Linked DNA regions of Homo sapiens: all the other regions are linked to region 1. The links come from fine-mapping of genetic effects on gene expression. A gene starts in region 1. Each other region holds a variant in brackets. All regions are shown on one strand. Distances are between the middles of the regions.

What was found.
Region 2: its variant is fine-mapped to the expression of INSL3 in whole blood (TOPMed, PIP above 0.99).
Region 3: its variant is fine-mapped to the expression of INSL3 in spleen (GTEx, PIP 0.96).

What each region holds. Positions count from the first base shown.
Region 1 is chr19:17,816,405-17,824,554 of GRCh38, reverse strand. It overlaps INSL3 (insulin like 3), which reads left to right and starts at 3,036. Exons shown (of 2, transcript NM_005543.4): 1 at 3,036-3,238; 2 at 7,496-8,043. The coding sequence starts at 3,049. The coding sequence ends at 7,701.
Region 2 is chr19:17,846,817-17,854,999 of GRCh38, reverse strand. JAK3 (Janus kinase 3) reads left to right here and starts at 7,018. Exons shown (of 24, transcript NM_000215.4): 1 at 7,018-7,054. The variant G/A (reference allele first, on the strand shown) is at 3,602.
Region 3 is chr19:17,898,592-17,906,774 of GRCh38, reverse strand. No RefSeq gene overlaps it. Among named protein-coding and RNA genes, the nearest start is that of CCDC124, 30 kb to the left of the region's middle. The variant G/A (reference allele first, on the strand shown) is at 3,797.

The sequences.
Region 1 (8,150 bases):
TTACAGGCTCTCTGTGGGTGGGGAAGGAACAGGATGCTCTCCCGGTGGTCAGAGGACAAGGCCAGGTTGGGGGAGCGAGGCTGTGGGGAGGGGACCAGCATCACTGGGGCCGGACCACCTCCCCACCGACCGGCCCCCGTCATGTGCACCTCATAACTGCTAGAAAGATGTGGAGAGTGGCCAGGCTCAGTGGCTCACGTCTGTAATCCCAGCACTTTAAGAGGCCAAGGCAGGAGGATCACTTGAGGTCAGGAGTATGAGATCAGCCTGGCCAACATGGCGAAACCGTCTCTATTAAAAATACAAAAATTAGCCTGGTGTTCTGGCACATGCCTGTAATCCCAGCTACTCAGGAGGCTGAGACAGAAGAATTGCTTGAAACTGGGATGTGGAGGTTGCAGTGAGCTGAGATCATGCCATTGCACTCCAGCCTGGGCGACAGAGCGACTCCGTTTCAAAAAAAAGAAAAATGCGGACAGAGACAGACATACAGAAGGAAACTGAGAGATGAAGGCCGAGAGAGACTCAGAGAGAGAGAGAGAGAGAGATCCCTGTCCCTGCTCTCTTAGCCCCAGAGGGCCCCCTAATTTGGTAGAAATAGGGAGGGAGCTGCTCTGGGGTCAAGCAAGACTCGAGTTCCAGCCCAGGTTCTCTCCTGCCTAGGGTCAAGCATCCTTCCCTCTCTCAACCTCAGATTCCCTCCTTGGAAAAACAAAGCTATAAGACCCCCTAGGCATGAAGCGGGGGCCAAGCATCCACTGAACAAATAAATCCTGCTCTATTCTGGGTCCACCAGCCCCTGCTCACCCAGAGGGGACAACCGTGTTGGGGAGACAGAGCTTCGGATGGGACACCCCCAGCCCTGCGTGTCAGGCGCCTTGAGAAGACCTGGGCTCTGCTCAGCCTCCTGTGACCTTGGGCAAGTTTGGGGTCCTTTCTCTGTGCCTCAGTTTTCTTTTTTTCTTTTCTTTTCTTTCTTTTTGTCTGGTGAGGGGACGGAGTCTCTGTCCCCAGGCTGGTGTGCAGCGGCACCATCTCGGCTCACTGCAATCTCCACCTCCTGGGTTCAAGTGATTCTCCTGCCTCAGCCTCCCGAGTAGCTGGGATTATAGGCATGCACCACCACATCTGGCTAATTTTTGTATTTTTAGTAGAGACAGAGTTTCACCATATTGGGCAGGCTGGTCTCGAACTCTTGACCTCAAGTGATCCACCTGCCCCATCTTCCCAAAGTGCTTGCATTACAGGCATGAGCCACTGCACCTGGCCTGTGTGCCTCAGTTTTCTCATTTGTACAGTAATAGAAACAACAAAATTCTGAACATTTCTGGTCTTGGAAGATGCCCGCTGTCTTCCCCCCTGCCCCCCAGAAAAGGCAGGATTATTACTTTTCAGTTGATCTATTTCATCTCTTTAAACTGGTTAAGACAATAGCGAAGACTTGGCCGTGTGTGGTGCCTCACACCTGTAATCCCAGCATTTTGGAAGGCCGAGTAGGGAGAACCACTTGAGTTCTAGATGAGCCTGGGCAACATAGCAAGACCCCTGCCTCTACAATTAAAAAATTAAAAATGGCCGGGCGCGTTGGTGCACGCCTGTAATCCCAGCACTTTGGGAGGCCGAGGCGGGTGGATCACTTGAGGTCAGGAGTTTGAGATCAGCCTGGCCAACATGGTGAAACCCCGTCTCTGCTAAAAAATACAAAAATTAGCCAGGCTTGGTGGTGGGCACCTGTAATCCCAGCTACTCAGGAGGCTGAGGCAGGAGAATCGCTTGAACCCAGGAAGCAAAGGTTGCAGTGAGTCGAGATCGCACCACTGTACTCCAGCCTGGGTGACAGAGTAAGACTCTGTCTAAAAAGATAAAAATAAAAATTAAAAAATTAAAAATTAGCTGGGCATTGTATTGCAGGCCTGTAGTCCCAGCTACTCAGGAGGCAGAGGCTGAAGGATCGCTTGAGCCCAGGGGAATGAGGTTACAGTGAGCTATGATCCTGCCATTACAGGCCAACCCAGAGAGATCCTATGTCAAAAATGAATAAATACCCTGGTGTGGTCGCTCTCGCCTGTGATCCCAGGACTTTGGGAGGCTGAGGCGGGAAGATGACTTGAGTCCAGGAGTTTGAGACCAGCCTGGGCAACATGGCAAAACCCCATCTCTACAAAAAAAATACAAAAAATTAGCCGGGTGTGGTGGCGTGGGCCTGTAGTCCCAGCTACTCAGGAGGCTGAGGTGGGAGAATTGCTTGAGTCAGGGATAGGGAGGTGGCAGTGAGCCCATATCGTGCCACTGCACTCCAGCCAGGGTAACAGAGCAAGAACTCATCTCAAAAATAAAAAATAAAAATAGGTGGCTGGGCGTGGTGGCTTACACCTGTAATCCCAGCTACTTGGGAGGCTGAGGTGGGAGAATCACTTGAACCCAGGAGGTGGAGGTTGCAGTGAGCCGAGATCGCATCACTGCACTCCAGCCTGGAAGACAGAGCAAGACTTTGTCTCAATAATAATAATAAAAATAATAATAGTCCAGGCACAGCTCATGCCTGTAATCCCAGCATTTTGGGAGGCCGAGGCAGATGGATCGCTTGAGGTCAGGAGTTGGAGACCAGCCTGGCCAACATGGCGAACCCCAGTCTCTACTAAAAATAAAAAATAAAAAAAAAAAAATTAGCCAGGCATAGTGGTGCGCACCTGTAATCCCAGCTACTCAGGAGGCTGAGGCAGGAGAATCGCTTGAACCCGGGTGTCAGAAGTTGCAGTGAGCCGAGATCAAGTCACTGCACTCCAACCTGGGTGACAGAGTGAGACTCCATCTCAAAAAAAAAGAAGAAAAAAATAAAAAAGAAAGACTCGTTGCCCAGTGCTCCCTCTGGGAGAAGTACATCCAAGGCCCTGGCCCTGGGAGAAAGGCTCTGGCACTAACCCCACCCTTGACCTTTTTCCTGGGCGGTCCTGAAGAATGTTCTGTCCCTTCTCCAAGGCCCCCAGCTGGGACGGCCCAGGCGCCTATAAAGGGGGTCCCCGCTTGGCCCCGGCGCCACCCACCACCATGGACCCCCGTCTGCCCGCCTGGGCGCTGGTGCTGCTGGGCCCTGCCCTGGTGTTCGCGTTGGGCCCCGCGCCCACCCCAGAGATGCGTGAGAAGTTGTGCGGCCACCACTTCGTACGCGCGCTAGTGCGCGTGTGCGGGGGCCCCCGCTGGTCCACCGAAGCCAGGAGGCCTGCGACCGGAGGCGACCGTGAGTGGGGACGGGCAGGGACAGCGCTCTGGGAAGCCGAGGTGGGGCAGGTGCACGTAGGCGCAGATGCACACGTGCAGGGAGGTGGGCAGGTTTGCATGCATGTGCCCAGGGCTCACCTGCCGGCTGCGTGCACAGATCGTGGGTCCGCACTGGAGTGTGTGTGAACGCGCGTGTGAAAGTCCCCAGAGCCGTTAGCCAGGCGTGGTGGCTCACGCCTGCAATCCCAGCACTTTGGGAGGCTGAGGCGGGTGGATCCCCAGAGGTCAGGAGTTCGAGACCAGCCTGGCCAAAATGGTGAAACCCCATCTCTACTAAAAATAATTTTTAAAAAAATTAGCCGGGGATAATGATGCACATCTGTAATCCCAGCTACTTGGGAGGCCAAGGCAGGAGAATCGCTTGAACCCGGAAGGCAGAGGTTGCAGTGGGCCGATATCATGCCATTGCACTCCAGCCTGGGCGACAGAGTGAAACTCCGTCTCAAAAAAAAAAAAAAAAGAAAGTCCTCAGAGCATGAGTCCCCCTGAGGGGCCAGAAACAGAGTGAGGCAGGAGAGGTAGGCTCTTGCAAGTACATGGTGAGATCCTGTCTTAAAATTTCAATATTTTGATCTTCATGAATTTTTGCCTTAATTTTGCTTTGTTTGTTTGTTTTTTGAGACAGGGTCTCACTCTGACGCCCAGGCTGGAGTGCAGTGGTGAGATCTCGGCTCACTGCAGGCTCAACCTCCTGGGCTCAAACCATCCTCCTGCCTCAGCCTCTGGAGTGGCTGGGATACAGGTGCTGCCACCACACCCAGCTAATTTTTTTTTCTTTTTCGTAGAGAGGGAGTCTCACTCTGTTTCCCAGGCTGGTCTCAAACTCCTGAGCTCAAGTAATCCTCCCACCTTGACCTTCCAAAGTGTTGGGATTAGCGATGTGAGTCACTGTGTCCAGCTTTAAAAGTATTTAAAAGTATTGCTTTTGAAAAGTATTGCTTTTCACAATTATGTTACTTTATTTTATTATTTTATTTTTATTTATTTATTTTGAGACATAGCCTCGCTCTGTCACCCAAACCAGAGTGCTGTGACGTGATCTCGTCTCACTGCAACCTCTGCCTCCCGGGTTCCAGCAATTTTCCTGCCTCAGCCTCCAGAGTAGCTGGGACTGCGGGCACGCACCACCACACCTGGCTAATTTTTGTATTTTGTTTGTTTGTTTGAGATGGAGTCTCGCTCTGTCACCCGGGCTGAAGTGCAGTGGCACGATCTCAGCTCACTGCAACCTCCGCCTCCTGAGTTCAAGCAATTCTCCTGCCTCAGCCTTCCAAGTAGCTGGGATTACAGGCCACTCCCCAGGTCACCCACTACCATGCACAGCTGATTTTTTTTTTTTTTTGTATTTTTAGTAGAGACAGGTGAACAGGTGAAACAACAGGTTTCACCATGTTGGCCAGTCTGGTCTTGTTTTGTTTTGTTTTGTTTTGTTTTGACATTGAGTCTCGCTCTGTCCCCCAGGCTGGAGTGCAGTGGTGTGATCTCGGCTCACTGCAAGCTCCGTCTCCCGGCTTCACGCCATTCTCCTGCCTCAGCCTCCTGAGTAGCTGGGACTGCAGGCGCCTGCCACCAAGCCCAGCTAAATTTTTTGTATTTTTAGTAGAGATGGGGTTTCACCATGTTAGCAAGGATGGTCTCAATCTCCTGATCTCGTGATCCACCTGCCTCGGCCTCCCAAAGGGCTGGGATTACAGGCATGAGCCACTGTGCCCGGGCCAGGCTGGTCTTGAACTCCTGACCTCAGGTGATCTGCCCGCCTCAGCCTCCCAAAGTGTTGGGATTACAAGCGTGAGCCGCTGTGCCTGGCCTTTTTACAAATATTTTAAATTTTATTTTAAAAGTATTGCATTAAAATACTTACCTTGCTGGATGTGGTGGCTCATGCCTGTAATCCCTGCTACTCAGGAGGCTAGGAGGGAAGATCACTTGAGGCCAGGAGTTTGAGACCAACCTGGGCAATATGAGACTCAGCCTGAGACAGAGACCCTTGTCTCAAAAAAGGGAAAAATATTAATATTATTATTATTATATATATATATTTTGAGACAGGGTCTCACTCTATCACCCAGGCTGGAGTGCAGTGGCGTGATCTCGGCTCATTGCAACCTCTGCCTCCCAGACTCAAGCAATCTGCCCACCTCAGCCTCCTGAGTAGCTGTGACTAGCTACTCTCAGGCTGGTGAGACCAGCCTGGCCAACGTGGCGAAACCTCGTCTCTACTAAAAATACAAAAATTAGCCGGGCGTTGTGGCGCACACCTGTAGTCTCAGCTACTCAGGAGGCTGAGGCAGGAGAATCACTTGAACCCGGGAGGTGGAGGTTGCAGTGAGCCAAGATCACGCCACTGCACTCCAGCTTGGCAACAGAGCGAGACTCCATCTCAAAAAAAAAAAGCTGATGCTGACATTTGGGGATGTATATGGTAGTGGGGCTGTCCTGTATATTGTAGGGTGTTAGATAACATCTCTGTCTTCTGCCCCCTAATGCCATGAATAGCCTCACACCCCATCCAAGTTGTGACATCTAAAACTGTCCCCAGACAAGTATCCCCTGGAAACAAAATCACCCTGGTTTGAGAACCACTGGTGTCAATTGTAAACTGCAGATTGGGTAGAGGGTAAACAACCCTCTAAATTTTCATAAGTCCTTTTTTTTTTCTTTTGAGACAGTCTTGCTCTGTCACTCAGGCTGGAGTGCAGTGGCACGATCTCGGGTCACTGCAGCCTTGCCTTCCCAGGCTCAAGCGATCCTCCCACCTCAGCCTCCCAAGTAGCTGGGACTACAGGCATGCAGAATTATGCCCAGCTAATTTTTGTATTTTCTGCAGAGATGAGGTTTTGCTGTATTGCCAAGGCTGGTCATGAACTCCTGGGCTCAAGCAACGCACCCACCTAGGCTTCCCAAAATGCTGGGATGACAGGTGTGAGCCACGGTGCCTGGCCTCAAAAAAATATCCTGATGGCTTCGTGCCTCCCTGTCTGTACCCTAGTCCTGGCCCTGGTGCAGGGATATACGACAAGTTTGTGCAGATGTGTTAACACGTGTCCACATGTCTCTGTGTGCCACTCCACTTGCGGTGTTAGGGATCCAGGGGAGGTGGTCTGCAAGGGTGTGTCCTCGTAGGGGTGTGTGTGTGTCTGTGGGTCCACCACACATGCGTGGGTGACCAGGAAGTGGACCCACAGACACATGTACACCCCTGCATGTCTCTGTACCACGAGGAGTCTGTGGGTGGGTCTCTGACCTGCTCTGGGTGTCTCACGGACCCTTGGACCTGTTGGGGAAACTGACACCATCTGTAGCTCCAAGACCCCCGACACTCCCTGGGCAGGGCATGGGGCACTCAGGTGGCATATGGGGACCCACGCAGCTGGGGATGTGAGTGTGGACATGAGTTGAGTGGATGAGAGGATTAACCAGGTGCCTGGCGTACAGTAGGTGCTTAATAAGTGCTCGCTTTTTTTTTTTTTTTTTTTTTTTGAGATGGAGTTTCATTCTTGTCACCTAGGCTGGAGTGCAATGGCATGATCCCAGCTCCCTGCAACCTCCACCTCCTGGGTTCAAGTGATTCTCCCACCCCAGCCTCCCCAGTAGCTGGGATTACAGGCGTCCACCACCACGCCTGACTAATTTTTGTATTTTTTAGTAGAGACAGGTTTTTACCATGTTGGCCAGGCTGATCTCAAACTCCTGACCTCAAGTGATCCACCCACCTCGGCCTCCCAAAGTGCTGGGATTACAGGCGTGAGCCACTGAGCCGGGCCAGTGCTCACTTTTTTTTTTTTTTTTTTGAGACAGAGTCTCACTCTGTCACCCAGGCTGGAGTGCAGTGGCGTGATCTCGGCTCACTGCAAGCTCTGCCTCCTGGGTTCACGTCATTCTCCTGCCTCAGCCTCCTGAGTAGCTGGGACTACAGGCGCCCGCCACCACACCCGGCTAATTTTTTGGTTGTTTTTTTTTTTAGTAGAGAAGGGGTTTCACTGTGTTAGCCAGGATGGTCTCAAACTCCTGACCTCGTGATCCGCCCACCTCGGCCTCCCAAAGTGCTGGGATTACAGGTGTAAGCCACTGCACCCGGCCAGTGCTCACTTTTTATCTGCATGCATGAGTGTTTGGTGGGTTACTCAGTGGGATGTGTGTGGATTCGTGCACATGCAGCATGGGGTAGCATGTCCTCTGTCGTTTCCGTTCCAGCTGAGTTTCACTCTGTCCCCAGGTGAGTTGCTACAGTGGCTGGAGAGACGACATCTGCTCCATGGGCTGGTGGCCGACAGTAATCTCACGCTGGGACCTGGCCTGCAGCCCCTGCCCCAGACCTCTCACCATCACCGCCACCACCGTGCAGCTGCCACCAACCCTGCACGCTACTGCTGCCTCAGTGGCTGTACCCAACAAGACCTGCTGACCCTCTGTCCCTACTGATTCCTCCTTGGGTGCAGCCTCAGAGTGGCCTGAGGCCCAGAGGGTCTGGTCTGGTGAGCTCCTGAGGCCACACAGCACCATAAAGTCTCGCATCTACAGGCCTTTGATTACCTCCTGGGATGGGTGCTCACTATCTACCCCAGACCAATGCCACCTGCAGCCTGTGGAGTCAACTGCAGAATAAATCACACCCTAGCCCTGGCTTGGAGGATCCCCGCTTTCACAGATGCTGGACACTGACAGCCAAATGTCCTCACTCCAGGGGAGCCCCAGACGCTCCGCTCCCTGCATGTGTAACACCCCTTCTTGCTGTCTCTTAGTAAATAAACGACCCAAAGCAGCTTCCTGCATTTTCTCTAGAAAAAGGGACAAGCCTCAGTCAGTCCCTGTGTGGGCTTGTCCCCCAGCAGCCATGGACCCACCGGCACTTCCAGGAGCTTGATAACTAG
Region 2 (8,183 bases), 30 kb before region 1:
CTTGTTTCCTTTTTTTTTTTTTTTTTGAGACGGAGTCTCACTCCATTGCCAAGGCTGGAATGCAGTGGCACAATCTCAGCTCACTGCAGCCTCTGCCTCCTGGGTTCAAGCCATCCTCTCCTGCCTCAGCCTCCTGAGTAGCTGGGATTACAGGCATCTGCCTCCACGCCCGGCTAATTTTTGTAATTTTAGTAGAGACGGGGTTTCACCATGTTGGACAGGCTGGTCTTGAACTCCTGACCTCAGATAATCCACCCACCTCAGCCTCCCAAAATGCTGGGATTACAGGCGTGAGCCACCGCGCCCGGCCCAGAGCTTTATTATTTTTCTTTTTGGTTGGGCACAGTGGCTCATATCTGTAACCCCAGCACTTTGGGAGGCTGAAGCGGGCAGGTCACTTGAGGTCAGGAGTCGAGACCAGCCTGGCCAACATGGTGAAACCCCGTCTCTACCAAAAATACAAAAATTAGCTGGGTGCAGTGACACACACCTGTAATCCCAGCTACTCGGGAGGCTGAGGCACGAGAATCACTTGAACCCTAGAGGCAGAGGTTGCAGTGAACCAAGATCATGCCGCTGCACTCCAGCCTGGGCAACAGAGTGAAACTGTCTTAATTTAAAAGAAAAAAAAAAGCTTTATTATTTTTCTTTCTTTTACATGTTGTCGGTGCCTGAGTGATGCCGTGGCCCCGGCTTCCTAGTGACACACCTGGCCTGGCAGGATTCCTCTGCCCCCACCTCGGGCCATGCAGGAATCTGACCTGAGCAGGCTGGTCCTGGGCTACTCTGTGTCTCTGTTATCACCATCCAGTGGGGCCCAGGCGAGGAGTTCCTGGTTAGCAGGGCTGTCCAAGGGCACCCCTGTCCCCCCTGTCTTTTTCCCAGGGACTTTGAAGGCACCAGTTTGTTCATCCAGGATCCTGGGCCAAGCCACAGCTTGGATCACGGAGCGTTCACAATGCTGATGTGCCTCATCCTTCCCACTCTTTCCCTCATCTCAGTTACTGGCACCAGTGCCTTCCCAAGGCTGGGCCCAAGACACCCAAATCTTGGTTTCTGACCGTTGGTCCTCAAAACACTGCAAAGCCACCCACTTGTATGCACTCCGGACTCCAGGTCCCTGGCCTTCTTTTTTTTTTTTTTTTTTTTTTGAGATGTAGCCTCTTTCCTGTCACGCAACCTTGAGTGCAATGCAGTGGCGCGATCTCAGCTCACTGCAACCTCCACCTCCCGAGTTCAAGCGATTCTCCTTCCTCAGCCTCCAGAGTAGCTGAGATTACAGGCGTGCGCCACCACACCCAGCTAATTTTTGTATTTTTAGCAGAGACGGGGTTTTACCATGTTGGCCAGGCTGGTCTTGAACTCCTGACCTGAGGTGATCCACCCACCTTGGCCTCCCGAAGTGCTAAGATTACAGGCATGAGCCACTGCACCCGGCCTTTTTTTTTTTTTTTTTTTTTTTTGAGACAGAGTTTTGCTCTTGTTGCCTAGGCTGGAGTGCAATGGTGTGATCTCGGCTTACCGCAGCCTCCACCTCCTGGGTTCAAGCGATTCTCCCACCTCAGCCTCCCAAGTAGCTGGAATTACAGGCATGCACCACCACATCCAGCTAATTTTGTTTTGTCAGTGGAGATGGGGTTTCTCCACGTTGATCAGGCTGGCCTCAAACTCCTGACCTGGGACTACAGGTGTGCACCACCATGCCCAGCTAATTTTTGTGTTTTTTTTGGTAGAGGTGGTGTTTCGCCACATTGCCCAGGCTGGTCTCAAACACAAGTTGTTTGTCAGAGACCAGCCTGCAATTCTCCCAGGGTGCTGGGATTACAGGCGTGAGCTACCATGCCCAGCCTAGGGGCCTCTTTTATAAGGGCATTAATCCCATTCATGAGAGCTCAACCCTCATGATCTAATCACCTCTTAAAAGGTTCCGATTCTGAATACCACCGCCTTCGAGGTTAGGATTTCAATGTATTAATTTTGGGGAGACGCAAACTCTCAGACCATCACAGTATTTTATCTTTTTCAGTGCTGCTGCAAAGGAAATTTTTCAAAATTTTTTTATGTTCCAATTGTTTGCTGCTGGTGTATAAAAATTCAATTGACTTTTGTATTGAATTCAACGGACTTTTTAAACCTGGTAACTTGCTGAATTTATGTATTAATTTCAGTAGTTGTCTTATAGATTCCCTTGGGTTTTTGACATAAACAATCATATCATCAGCAAATAGCAACAGTTTTATTTACCTTTTTTTTATTACTTATTTTATTCTGTTTTGCTTGTTACAGAATCTTGCTATGTTGCCTTTAAATTCTTGGGCTCCCATTTCAGCTTCTCCAGTAGCTGAGGCTACAAGCATGTATCACCATGCCCAGCCACACCTGACTTGTTTATTTTTCTCATATATTTTTTTGTTTTAAGACAGGATCTCGCTCTGTTGCCCAGACTGGAGTGTAATGGTGTGATGATGGCTTACTGCAGCCTTGTCCTCCCTGACTCAAGCAATCCTCAGCCTCCCAAATAGCTGGGACAACAGGTGTGAGCTATCACACCCTGCCAATTTTTAATTTTTTTTTTTTTTTTGAGACAGAGTCTCCCTCTGTCACCTAGGCTGGAGTGCAGTGGCGCGATCTTGGCTCACTGCAACCTTCACCTCCCGGGTTCAAGCGATTCTCCTGCCTCAGCCTCCTGAGTAGCTGGGATTACAGGCGCGCATCACCACGCACGGCTAATTTTTGTATTTTTACCATGCCTGGCTAATTTTTGTATTTTTAGTAGAGATGGGGTTTCACCATGTTGATCAGGCTGGTCTTGAACTCCTGACCTTGTGATTCTCCCACCTCAGCCTCCCAAAGTGCTGGGATTACAGGCGTGAGCCACCATGCCCAGCTTTTCTTTTCTTTCTTTCTTTTTTTTTTTTTTTAGACGGAGTCTCACTCTGTCACCCAGGCTGGAGTGCAGTGGCCCGATCTTGGCTCACTGCAAGCTCCGCCTCCCTGGTTCACACCATTCTCCTGCCTCAGCCTGCTTTTTCTTTTCTTATTACAGTGGCTAACATCACCAGAACAATGTTGAATAGAGGTGGTGAAAATGGACATCCTTGTCTTGTTTCCAATCTCAGGAGGAAGTTATTCAGTCTTTTACCATTTTTGTTTTTGTTTTTGAGATGTAGTCTCGCTCTGTCGCCCAGGCTGGAGTACAGTGGCACTATCTTGGCTCCCTGCAACCTCTGCCTCCTGGACTCAAGCCATCCTCCCACTTCAGTCTTCCAAGTAGCTGAGACTACAGGTGCACACCACCATGCCTGGCTAATTTTTGTATGTTTTGTAGAGACGGATCTCACCATGTTGCCCAGGCTAATCTCCAACTCCTGAGCTCAAATGATCCTCCCATGTTGACTTCCCAAAGTGCTCAGATTACAGGCATGAGCCACCGTGCCTGGCCCTGCCTCACTGTACTCTTAATTTTCATTTGGCAAGTGAAGCTGAGGAAATTTTTCTGGGTTTAAGAGCTATTTGTCCTCCATTTTCTCTGACTTCTGGATTCATATCCACCTAACTGGTTGGCATTTTCTTACTGCTTTCTAGATGTTACTTATATAAC[G/A]AGGATATTTTATCCATGAGTTCAATTTTGTTTCCAGTTACACTTTGATTGTATTTTATTCTTTGATTGTATTTATGGACTTCTTGTCAGCAGAAAAATCTGGGTGTTTGCATCACTGACGTGCCCCATTTTTCTCGGGCAAGTTCTGGGTTCTGTCCCCAGAACTTCCTTTTTTTAAAAAAAATTATTTATTTATTTATTTATTTTTTGATACGGAGTCTTGCTGTGTCGCCCAGGCTGGAGTGCAGTTGTGCGATCTCGGCTCACTGCAACCTCCGCCTCCCAGGTTCAAGTGATTCTCTTGCCTCAGCCTCCTGAGTAGCTGGGACTGCAGGCGCCCGCCACCACACCCAGCTGCGTTTTGTATTTTTAGTAGAGATGGGGTTTCACCAGGTTGGCAAGGCCGGTCTCGAACTCCTAACCTCAGGCGATCCGCCCGCCTCGGCCTCCCAAAGTGCTGGGATTATAGGCGTGAGCCACCGCGCCCGGCCAGAACTTCCTTTTAGAGCCTTCACATGCCCTTCTCTGGGGCTGAAGGTACCACTTTGGTCCTCACCCCAATCTCCTCTTACTTATTCTCAAAATATTGCAGAAACCATCACACTGGAGGTAGCAGAGACCCAGAAACTCACTGTACTTCCGGAAAGCAGAGGCTTCAGCCTCAGGCCAAGGATGAGAACATAAGGTTGCATTCCCGTCTGCTGAAGCCACCCAGGAAGTGAAAGAAAACACTACAACTAAGCTTCTGCTTGGCACTTCCTGCCGCAGGTCAGCTGTGGCTCCACTAAGCTCCACTAAGCTGAGGACATAATCTATATCTCTTTCCCTTGACCCACGCGGCCCTACCCACGCCATCAAATGAGTCTCAGCCCCCCGTGTCCCTGACATCCTGCTCTTCTCAGGAACACTGTGAATTCGTGAAGCCTCCAGGCCTTTGCCTGGGCTGTTCTGCCTGCCAGAACTGCCCACACTCCCACATTCTCAGGTCACTCTCTGGCTAGTCCCACTTGTTGTTGGATTTCAGAATCAAAGCCACCTCCTCCAGGAAGCCCTCCCAGATCCAGTCATCTCTCTTAGCAGACCGGTCCCAGGGGCAACTGATATAATTATTGGGCAATAGCTTGTTTATTGCCATCTCCCCTGCTGGACTGTCAGCTCCCCTGGACAGGGATTGGGTCTGCATTGTCCCCGATTCCCTGCACACAGGCTGTGTCCAATAAGCCTCTGGCTGATTGAACAGTTAAGATCAACAAAATACTTACCAAACCATTTTGTGTTAAGACTTGTGATGGTGATACAGAGATGAAAAGTCTTTTTTTTTTTTTTTTTGAGACGGGATCTCACTCCCATTGCCCAGGCTGGAGTGCAGTGGCATGACCACAGCTAACTGCAGCCTCAACTTCCTGGGCTCAGGTGATCCTCCCACCTCAGCCTCCCCTAGTAGCTGGGACTACAGGCACATGCCACCACATCCAGCTTATTATTTTGTTGTTGTTGTATTTTTTGTAGAGACAGGGTTTCACCATGTTGCCCAGGCTGGTCTCGAACACCTGGGCTCAAGCCATCCTCCTGCCTGAGCCTCCCAAAGTGCTGAGATTACAGGTGTGAGCCACTGTTCTTGGCCACAACTTCTTAAATCTATTCCTTTTTTTTTTTTTGAGACAGAGTATTGCTCCGTCGCCCAGGCTGGAGTGCGGTGGCACAATCTCAGCTCACTACAACCTCCGCCTGCCTCCTGGGTTCCAGTGATTCTCCTGCCTCAGCCTCCCAAGTAGCTGGGATTACAGGCACATGCCACCACGCCCAGCTAATTTTTATATTTTTAGTAGAGATGGGGTTTCACCATGTTGGCCAGGCTGGTCTCGAACTCCTAGGCTCAAGCAATCTTCCCACCTGGGCCTTCCAAAGTGCTGGAATTACAGATGTGAGCCACTGTACCCGGTCACCACTTCGTCAGTCTATTCCTGAAGCTCTACTTCCGGGGCTCTGATCCTATTATCCTAAGAACACTGGCCCAAGTCTCTGCATTTGGATGCTGCCCGGGCCTTCTGCCTCTTCTATTTATAACAGCTCCTACTTCCAACTCTCCTGTGGCTCCAGATTATGCTCCAGGCAAAACCCACCCTTCTCCCAAAGACCCTGATCCCCCTGTCCCCCCACGATCTTGCCCCTGTTGACCGCCCTGCAGTCCCCTTCCCCCTCATCTCACCCCTGCCCCTGGCCTCCTGACTGCTCTTCAAGCTGCTAAGATCACTGCCCTCTCAAGGTCTTTGCCCATCCTGTGCCCTCCTCCTGGAGCACCCTTTCCCTGGCCAGCTCCCTGTCCTGCCTCGGGTCCAAGTTCCAGTCTGTGCCTGTCCTGACACCCTGGCTTTCTTTGTTGTCTGCGATGATTTGGCTCCTTCATTTGCTCATTGTCTCAGCGCCAGATCACAAGTTCCAAGAGGCCAGGCCGGATCCACCTGGTTTTTTAGGGCTGGGCCCAGGGCACCACAGGCAGAAATGGGTCATTATCTCTCCCTGAGTCTTTTCTTTTTTTTTTAAACGAAGTCCCGCTCTGTTGCCAGGCTGGAGTGCAGTGGCGCCATCTCGTCTCACTGTAACATCCGCCTCCTAGATTCAAGCAATCCTCCCACCTCAGCCTCCTGAGTAGCTAGGATTACAGGCATCACCAGGCCTGGCTAATTTTCCTGTTTTTAGTAGAGACAGGGTTTCATCATGTTGGCCAGGCTGGTCTCAAACTCCTGACTTCAAGTGATCCGCCCGCCTCAGCCTCCCAAAGTGCTGCGATTACAGGCCACCACGCCTGGCTAATTTTTGTATTTTTAGTAGAGACGGAGTTTCGCCATGTTGGCTAGGCTGGTCTCAAACTCCTGACCTCAAGTAATCGCCCGCCTCAGTCTCCCAAAGTGCTGGGATGACAGGCGTGAGCCACTGCGCCCAGCGTCTCCCTGAGTCTTAAGGGAGAAATACCTCAAAGAAGAACTTGACCTTCCTCTGGGGCAACTTCCCTGCTTCCCTCCTGGGCAAATCCAGCCAGGTTTCCTTCCCTGGGTGCAAAATTAGTTCCACTGGGTGCCCAACTCACACATGCTACAGATGGGTAAACTGAGGCAATAAGGGCCGGGCCAGAGCCCCACTTAACAAGTGGGTCTAGAGTCGGCTGAGCCCCTGGTGTGACCCAGACCCTTCTCTGTGCTATCATCAGTTCCTTTGGCTTAGGGGTCTCCAGCAGCCTGTCTGAACGGGGCGGCTGATGCAGAGGCTTCCGGAACTTTCTGCCCCTCCTTGCCCGCCTCCCCGCCCCCAGCTCCCGCAGGGCCCTGACTTTCGGTAAATGACAGTGGCTCAGGAAACCAAGGGGCCCACACAGGAAGGAGCCGAGTGGGACTTTCCTCTCGCTGCCTCCCGGCTCTGCCCGCCCTTCGAAAGTCCAGGGTCCCTGCCCGCTAGGTAAGAGCTGGCGATGCCGCAGGGCTCGGCCCAGACACTGGGGGAGGATGGTGGTGGCGGGGGATGGCTGGGCTGGGGCAGGGTGCTGCCAGGGCAAAGGCTAGCTCGCCTTCCAGGCCTCGGAGGAAAGCTGCGAGGCAGACGTGAGCCGAGACTCGCATCCTCCGATCGCTCGCTTCTCTGGGCTTCGGCTTTGACTAAGGCCGGGAGATGCCTGCCTTGCGGACCTGGAGGAGTCATTGCGCATGCGCGACGGGGGCTGCGGGGTTGGGGGTGGGGAGGAGGGATTGGGAAGGAGGGATTGGGGGGCGGAGTTCCCAGCCCCTACCCTCCAGGCCTTCCCGGTCCAGACACAGGGTACCCGACCATACCAGGATGCAGAACGTTGAGGATTATAAACAGGGGATGCCGAGGCGGGAGGATAGCTTGAGGCCAGGAGTTCAAGGCCAGCCTGGGCAACATAGCCAGACCTCCATTTCTACAAACATTTTTAAAAAACCAAAAAAACTATGGCGTTTTCTGGGACCAAACATCACCTCTGACTTTTCATTTTTTTTTGTTACAGTATTACAGAATAATAATATTCTGTTAAGATTTTTTTGTTGTTTTGGAGATGGGAGTCTTGCTATGTTGTTCAGGCAGGTCTCTAACCCCTGGCCTCAAGCTATCCTGCTGCCTCAGCCCCCTGAGTAGCTGGGATTGCAGTGGGGCGCCACTGCCACTGAAGCCTTATTTTAAACTCGACTGGGGCTGGGCACAGTGGCTCATGCCTTTAATCCCAACACTTTGGGAGGCTGAGGCCAGCGGATCACTGGAGGTCAGGAGTTCGAGATCAGCCTGGTCAACATGGTGAAACCCTATCTCTACTAAAAACACAAAAATTAGCCAGGTTTGGTGGCGGGTGCCTGTAATTCCAGCTACTCAGGAGGCTGAGGCAGGAGAATCGCTTGAACCTGGGAGGTGGAGTTTGCAGTGAGCCGAGATCATGCCACTGCACTCCAGCCTGGGAGACAGAACAAGAATCCGTCCTCCCCCCTACAAAATAAATAAATAAATAAAAAGGCTGGGCAATGTGGCTCACGTGTGTAATCACAGCACTTTGGGAGGCCAAGGCAGGCGAATCACCTGA
Region 3 (8,183 bases), 82 kb before region 1:
TGCAGTGAGCTGAGATTGCACCATTGCACTCCAGCCTAGGCGACAGGGTGAGACTCTGTCTCAAAAAGAAAAAAGAGAAAAGAAAAAGTGTATCCTACTGAGTCTCTGCTCAATAAACATCAACACATTTTTTTTTTTTTTGAGACAGAGTCTCACTCTTGTCGCCCAGGTTGGAGTGCAATGGTGCCATCTTGGCTCACTGCAACCTCCACCTCCTGGGTTCAAGCTTCTCTTGCCTCAGCCTCCTGAGTAGCTGGGATTATAGGTGCTCGCCACCATGCCCGGCTAATTTTTGTACTTTTTTAGTAGAGACAGGGTTTCGCCATGTTGGCCAGGCTGGTCTGGAACTCCTGACCTCAGGTGACCCACCTGCCTTGGCCTCCCAAAGTGCTGGGATTACAGGCGTGAGCCACCATGCCCGGCCAACACATATTTTTTTAAGAGACAAGTTTCACTGTTACCTAGGCTAGAGTGCAGTGGCATGGTCATAGCTCCTTGCAGCCTAGAACTCCTGGGCTCAAGCAATCCTTCTGACTCTGCCTCCTGAGTAGCTAGAACTATAGGTACACACCACCCTGCCTGATTAATTTTTTTATTTTTAGAGATGAAGGTCTCACTATATTTTTCAAGCTGGTTTCAAATTCCTGGCCTCAAGTGATCCTCCTGCCTCAGCCTTTGAAAGCCCTGGGATTATAGGCATGAGCCACCAAATCCAGCAATAAACATCAATACTTTATTTATTTTATTTTTTGCTGGGCATGGTGGCTCACGCCTGTAATCCCAGCACTTTGGGAGGCCAAGGGGGGTGGATCACGAGGTCAGGAGATCGAGACCATCCTGGCTAACACGGCAAAACTCTATCTCTACTAAAAATACAAAAAATTAGTTGGGCATAGTGGCAGGCGCCTGTAGTCCCAGCTACTCGGGAGGCTGAGTCAGGAGAATGGCATGAATCTGGGAGATGGAGCTTGCAGTGAGCCGAGATTGCACCACTGCACTCCAGCCTGGGTGACAGAGCGAGACTCCATCTCAAACAAAACAAAACAAAACAGACTTTGACGGAGTTTCACTCTTGTTGCCCAGGCTGGAGTGCAATGGCACGATCTTGGCCCACCGCAACCTCCACCTCCTGGGTTCAAGTGATTGTCCTGCCTCAGCCTCCCGAGTAGCTGGGACTACAGGCATGTGCCACCACACCCGGCTAATTTTGTATTTTTTTTTTTTTTTTTTTTTTTTTTTTAGTAGAGACGGGGTTTCTCCATGTTGGTCAGGCTGGTCTCGAACTCCTGACCTCAGGTAATCTACCCGCTTTGGCCTCCCAATGTGCTGGGATTACATGTGTGAGCTACTGAGCCCGGCAAATATCAATACTTTTAATATATGGGTAAACTGCTTGGCACATATTGTGTGCTCAATAAATGTAAATAATTTCTTTTTTTCTTTCTTTTTGAGAAAAGTGCTCGCTCTGCTGCCCAGGCTGGAGTGTAGTAGCATGATCTTGGCTCACTACAACCTCCGCCTCCTGGGCTCAAGTGGTCCTCCCAAGTAGCTGGGACTATGGGCACAAGCCACCACAGCTGGCTAATTTTTGTATTTTTGTATTACAAGCATGAGCCAGTGTACCTGGCCAATAATTTCAAAATGTTCTTTTCTGGCTATAAAAATGAATCACTTTAAATATTAAAAATAGTCCAGTCGCGATGGCTCACGCCTACAATCCCAGCACTTTGGGAGGTCAAGGAGGGTGGATCACCTGAGGTCAGCAATTTGAGACCAGCCTGGGCAACATGATGAAACCCCATCTCTACTAAAAATACAAAAAATTAGCCGGGTGTGGTGGCGGGCACCTGTAATCTCGGCTACTCGGGAGGCTGAGGCAGGAGAATCACTTTGAACCCAGGAGGCGGAGGTTGCAGTGAGCCGAGATTGCATCATTGCACTTCAGCTGGGGCAGTAAGAGCGAAACTCCATCTCGGGGGAAATAAAAATTTAAATATAGGCTGAGCATGGTCACTCATGCCTGTAATCCCAGCACTTCGGGAGGCCGAGGCAGGCGGATCACGAGGTCAGGAGTTCGAGACCAGCCTGGCCAACATGTCGAAAACCCATCTCTACTACAAAAATTAGCTGGGCGTGGTGGCATGCACCTGTAATCCCAGCTACTTGGGACGGTAAGGCAGGAGAATTGCTTGAACCCAGAGGGCGGAGGTTGCAGTGAGCCAAGATTGTGCCACTGCACTCCAGCCTGGGCAACAGAGCAAGACTCCGTATCGAAAAAATTAAAAAATAATAAATACATATTATGGAAAAGAGAACCCTACATATCCTTTTTGATTCTTTTTTAGTGCAGAATAGTGATCCTCAAGCAAGGATGATTCCACTCTCCTACTCTGCCCCAGGCCTTAGGGAACAATCGCCATGTCTGGAAACAATTTTGATTGTCACAACTGGAGTGGATGGTGGTGCTACTGGCACCTAGAGGGATGAGGCCAGAGATGTTGCTAAACATCCTACAGGCCGGGTGTGGTGGCTCATGTCTGTAATCCCAGTACTTTGGGAGGCCAAGATGAGCGAATCACTTGAGGTCAGGAGTTCGAGACCAGCCTGGCCAACATGGTGAAACCCCATCTCTACTGAAAATACAAAAATTAGCCAGGCGTGGTGGCACATGCCTGTAATCCCAGCTACTGGGGAGGCTGAGGCAGGAGGATTGCTTGAACGTGGGAGGTGGAGGTTGTAGTGAGCCAAGATCACACCACGGCACTCCAACCTGGGTGACAGACCAAGATTCCGTATCCCTCTCTCTCTCTCTATGAAGTTTTAGCCAATGTGACTAGGCATGAAACAGAAATTGAAAATTTCTGCATCCAAACTGGAAAAGAAGGAATAAAATGATCTCTGTTTGCAGATGACATGATCTTATACATAGAGTATCCCAGAAGTTACACACATGTCCACAGAAGCCTGTTAAAATAAGCAAATTGAGCAAATTTGCAGAATACAAAATCAACCCCCAAAAATCGATTTTATTGGCTGGGCACGGTGGCTCACGCCTGTAATCCCAGCACTTTGGAAGGCTGAGACAGGTGGATCATGAGGTCAAGAGTTCAAGACCATCCTGGCCAACATGGGGAAACCCTGTCTCTACTAAAAATACAAAAATTAGCTGGGAATGGTGGCACGCGCCTGTAGTCCCAGCTACTCGGGAGGCTGAGGCAGGAGAATCGCTTGAAACCAGGAGGCGGAAGTTGCAGTGAGCCGAGATCACACCACTGCACTCTAGCCTGGGCCACAGAGCGAGACTCCATCTCAAAAAAAAAAAAAAAATCAATTGTATTTCTACACCACTAACAACGAACAATCTGAAAAGGAAATTAGGCAAACAGGCCAGGCACAGTGGTTCACATCTGTAATCCCAACACTTTGGGAGTCTGAGATGGGAGGATCACTTGAGCCCAGGAGTTCAAGACCAGCCTGGGCAACATAGCAAGACCCCATCTCCACAAAAAATTTTAAGATTAGCCAGGCATGCTGGTGCTTTCTGTAGTCACAGCTACTCAGGACGCTGAGGCTGGAGGATTACTTGAGCCCTGGAGGTTGAAGCTGCAGTGAGCTGTGATCATACCACTGCATCCCAGCCTCTGTGACAGAGACCCTGTCTCTACAACAACAACAACAACAATGAAAAAAGAAACCAATTCCAGTTTGTTGTTGGAGAAAGGAGAAAAACGAAAGCACAAAGAACCTCCACCACTATCACCACCAGCACAACCCTGCAGAAGCCCAGAGGATACCC[G/A]GGTCGCCTTCAGCCTCCCCTGCTTCCCACCACTGGCTGCCTGCATTCTTGGACCTGGTCCCACCATCTGTTACAACATGGAGGCTTACCACTAAGTTCCAGGCATGCAGAGACATGCCTCACCCCAGGATGTGAAAAAGGCATATGAGGTCGGGTGTGGTGGCTCTCGCCTATAATCCCAGCACTTTGGGAGGATGACACAGGAAGATCACTTGAGCCCAAGAGTTCGAGACCAGCCTGGGCAACATAGTGGGGCCCCATCTCTACAAAAAATTTTAAAAATTAACCAGGTGTGATGGTGCATGCTTGTAGTCCCAGTTACTTGGAAGGCTGAGGTGGGAGGATAACTTAAACCCAGGGGTTCATGGCTGCAGTGAGTTCGGGCCACTGCACTCTAGCCTGAGAGACAGAGTGAGAATTTGTCTTAAAAAAGTAAAAATAAAAATATGTAGTGTTAAGGCTGGGTGGGGTTTTTTTTGTATGTTTTTTTTTTTTTGAGATGGAGTCTCATTCTATCATCCAGGCTGGAGTGCAATGGTACGATCTCGGCTCACTGTAGTCTCCACCTCCCGGGTTCAAGTGATCCTCCCACCTCAGCCTCCCAAGTAGCTGAGATTATAGGTACCCAGCTAATTTTTATATGTTTAGTAGAGATGGAGCTTCACCATGTCGGCCAGGCTGGTCTTGAATTCTTGGCCTCAAGTGATCCACCTACCTCGGCCTCCCAGAGTGCTAGAATTACAGGCATGAGCCACTGCACCCAGCCAAGGTTAGGTTTTAAAAAGTAAAAATGGTAAACTGTGTCTTGTTATTTGCTTTAGAAAAGAAAAAAAAACCGAAGTGGCACAACTGAGGCTCACTGCAAGATCACAGCTCACTGTAAGAAAAAAATTCCACTTATGGTAGTGTCCAAAAGAATAAAAAACTTAAGAAAAACTTAGCCAAGGGGCCAAAAGACTTGTACACTGAAAACTGCAAATCATCGCTGAAATAAATTAAAGACAAAAATACCAGAAAGACATCCCATGTTCATGAATTAGAAGACTTAATATTGTTAAGATGGCTATAGTACCCAAAGTGATCCGTTGATTCAAAGCAATCCTATCAAAATCTCAATTTTTTTTCAGAAAGAGAAAAATCCATTCTTAAATTCATCTCAAGGAACCTTGAGGTCAAAATTACATAGACAGACATATAGATCAGTAAAAGACATGGAGAGCCCAGAAATAAACCCTTAATATACAGTGAGATGATTTTTGACAAGGATGCCAAGACCATTAAATGGGAAAGGACAAGTGTTTTTCAACAAATTCTGCGGAAAACTGGATATCCACAGCAAAATGATGACGTTGGACCCTGTATTAGTCCATTTTCACGCTACTAATAAAGACATACCTGAGACTGAGAAAAAGAGGTTTAATTGGACTTGCAGGTCCACATGGCTGGGGAGGCCTCAGAATCATGGCAGGAGGCAAAAGGCACTTCTTACATGGCAGTGGCCAGAGAAAATGAGGGAAACACAAAAGCAGAAACCCTTGATAAAACTATCAGATCTCGTGAGACTTACTCACTACCACGAGAACAGTATGGGGGAAACCGCCCCCACGATTCGATTATCTCCCACTAGGTCCCTCCCACAACACATGAGAATTATGGGAGTACAATTCAAGATGAGATTTGGGAGGGGACACAGGGCCAAACTACATCATTCTGCCCCTGGCTCCTGCCAAATCTCATATCCTCACATTTCAAAACCAATCATGTCTTCCCAACAGTCCCCCAATGTCTTAACTCAATTCAGCATTAACTCAAAAGTCCACAGTCCAAAGTCTCATCTGAGACAAGCAAGTTCTTTCTGCCTATAAGCCTGTAAAATCAAAAGCAAGTTAGTTATTTCCTAGATGGAAATGGAAGTACAGACATTGGGTAAATACAGCCATTCAAAATGGGAGAAATTGGCCAAAACAAAGGGCTACAGACCCCATGCAAGTCTGAAATCCGGCGGGGCATTCAAATCCTAAAGCTCCAACATTATCTCCTTTGACTTCATGTCTCACATCCAGGTCATGCTGATGCAAGAGGTGGGTTCCCATGATCTTGGGCAGCTCCGTCCCTGTGACTTTGCAGGGTACGGCGTTCCTCCCAGCTGCTTTCACGGGCTGGTGTTGAGTGTCTGTGGCTTTTCCAGGCATATTGTGCAAGCTGTCGGTGGATCTACCATTCTGGTGTCTGGAGGATGGTGGCCCTCTTCTCACAGCTCCACTAGGCAGTACCCCAGTAGAGACTCTATGTAGGGGCTCTGACCCCATATTTCCCTTCTGCACTGCCCTAGGAGAGGTTTTCCATGAGAGCCCCACCCTTACAGCAAACTTCTGCCTGGGCATCCAGGCATCTCCATACATCTTCTGAAATCTAGGTGGAGGTTCCCAAACCTTGATTCTTGACTTCTGTGCACCCACAGGCTCAATGCCATGTGGGAGCTGCCAAGGCTTGGGGCTTGCACCATCTGAAGCCATGGCCTGAGCTCTGCATTCGCCTTTTTCAGCCATGGCTGGAGCGGCTGGGACACAGGACACCAAGTCCCTAGACTGTACATAGCTTGGGGACCCTGGGCCCAGCCCACAAAACCACTTTTTCCTCCTAGGCCTCCAGCCCTGTGATGGGAGGGGCTGCTGTGAGGACCCCTGACATGCCCTGGAGACATTTTCCCCATTGTCTTGGGGATTAACATTCGATTCCTCATTACTTATGCAAATTTCTGCAGTTGGCTTGAATTTCTCCTTAGAAAATGCAATTTTTTTTCTATCACATTGTCAGGCTGCAAATTTTTCAAACTTTTATGCTCTGTTTCCCTTTTAAAACTGAATGCTTTTAACAGCACATAAGTCACCTCTTGAATGCTTTGCTGCTTAGAAACTTCTTCCACCAGATACCCTAAATCATCTCTCTCAAAGTTCAACATTCCACATATCTCTAGGTCAGGGGCAAAATGCTGCCAGTCTCTTTGTTAAAACATAACAACAGTCACCTTTGCTCCAGTTCCCAACATGTTCCTCATCTCCATCTGAGACCACCTCAGCCTGGACCTTATTGTCCATATCACTATCAGCATTTTGGGCAAAGCTATTCAACAAGTCTCTAGGAAGTTCCAAACTTTCCCACATTTTCGTGTCTTTTTCTGAGCCTTCCAAACTGTTCCAACCTCTGCCTGTTACCCAGTTCCAAAGTCACTTCCACATTTTCAGGTATCTTTTCAGCAATGCCCCACTCCCAGTACCAATTTACTGTATTAGTCTGTTTTCACACTGCTAATAAAGACATACCCGAGACAGAGAAAAAGAGGTTTAATTGGACTTGCAGTTCTACACGGCTGGGGAGGCCTCAGAATCATGGCAGGAGGTGAAAAGCACTTCTTACATGGCAGTGGCAAGAGAAAATGAGGAAGATGCAAAAGTGGAAACCCCTGATAAAACCATCAGATCTCGGCCAGACACGGTGGCTCATGCCTGTAATCCTAGCACTTTGGGAGGCTGAGGCAGGCAGATTGCCTGAGCTCAGGAGTTCGAGACCAGCCTGGGCAACACAGTGAAACCCTCTACTCTCTACTAAAATACAAAAAATTAGACGGGCTTGGTGGCAGGCACCTGTAGTCCCAGCTACTTGGGAGGCTGAGGCAGGAGAATTGCTTGAACCCGAGAGGTGGAAGTTGCAGTGAGCTGAGATCATGTCACTGCATTCCAGCCTGGGCAAAAGAGCAAGACTCTGTCTCAAAAAAAAAAACAAAGCAAAACAAACAAACAAACAAAAAACATCAGATCTCGTGAAACTTATTCACTACCACAACTACCGCAAGAACAGTATGGGGGGAACCGCCCCCATGATTCAATTATCTCCCACCAGCTCCCTCCCACAACACGTGGGAATTATGGGAGTACAATTCAAGATGAGATTTGGGTGGGAACACAGAGTTAAACCATATCAGACCCTTACCTCATATACGAAAATTAACCCAAAATGAAACTAAATTTCCCCTTTTTTTGCAGCCAGGTGCAGTGGCTCATGACTGTAATCCCAGCACTTTGGGAGGCTGAGGCAGGCAGATCACTTGAGGTCAGGAGTTCCAGACCAGCCTGATCAACATGGCGAAACCCTATCTCTACTAAAAATACAAAAATTAGCCAGGCATGGTAGTGAGCGCCTGTAATCCCAGCTACTCGGGAGGCTGAGGTATGAGAATCGCTTGAACCCAGGAGGTGGAGGCTGCAGTGAGCTGTGATTGCACCACTGCACTCCAGCCTTTTTTTTTTTTTTTTTTTGAGACAGGGTCTTGCTCTGTCGCCCAGGTTGGAGTGCAGGGGTACAGTCATGGCTCACTGCAGCCTTGATC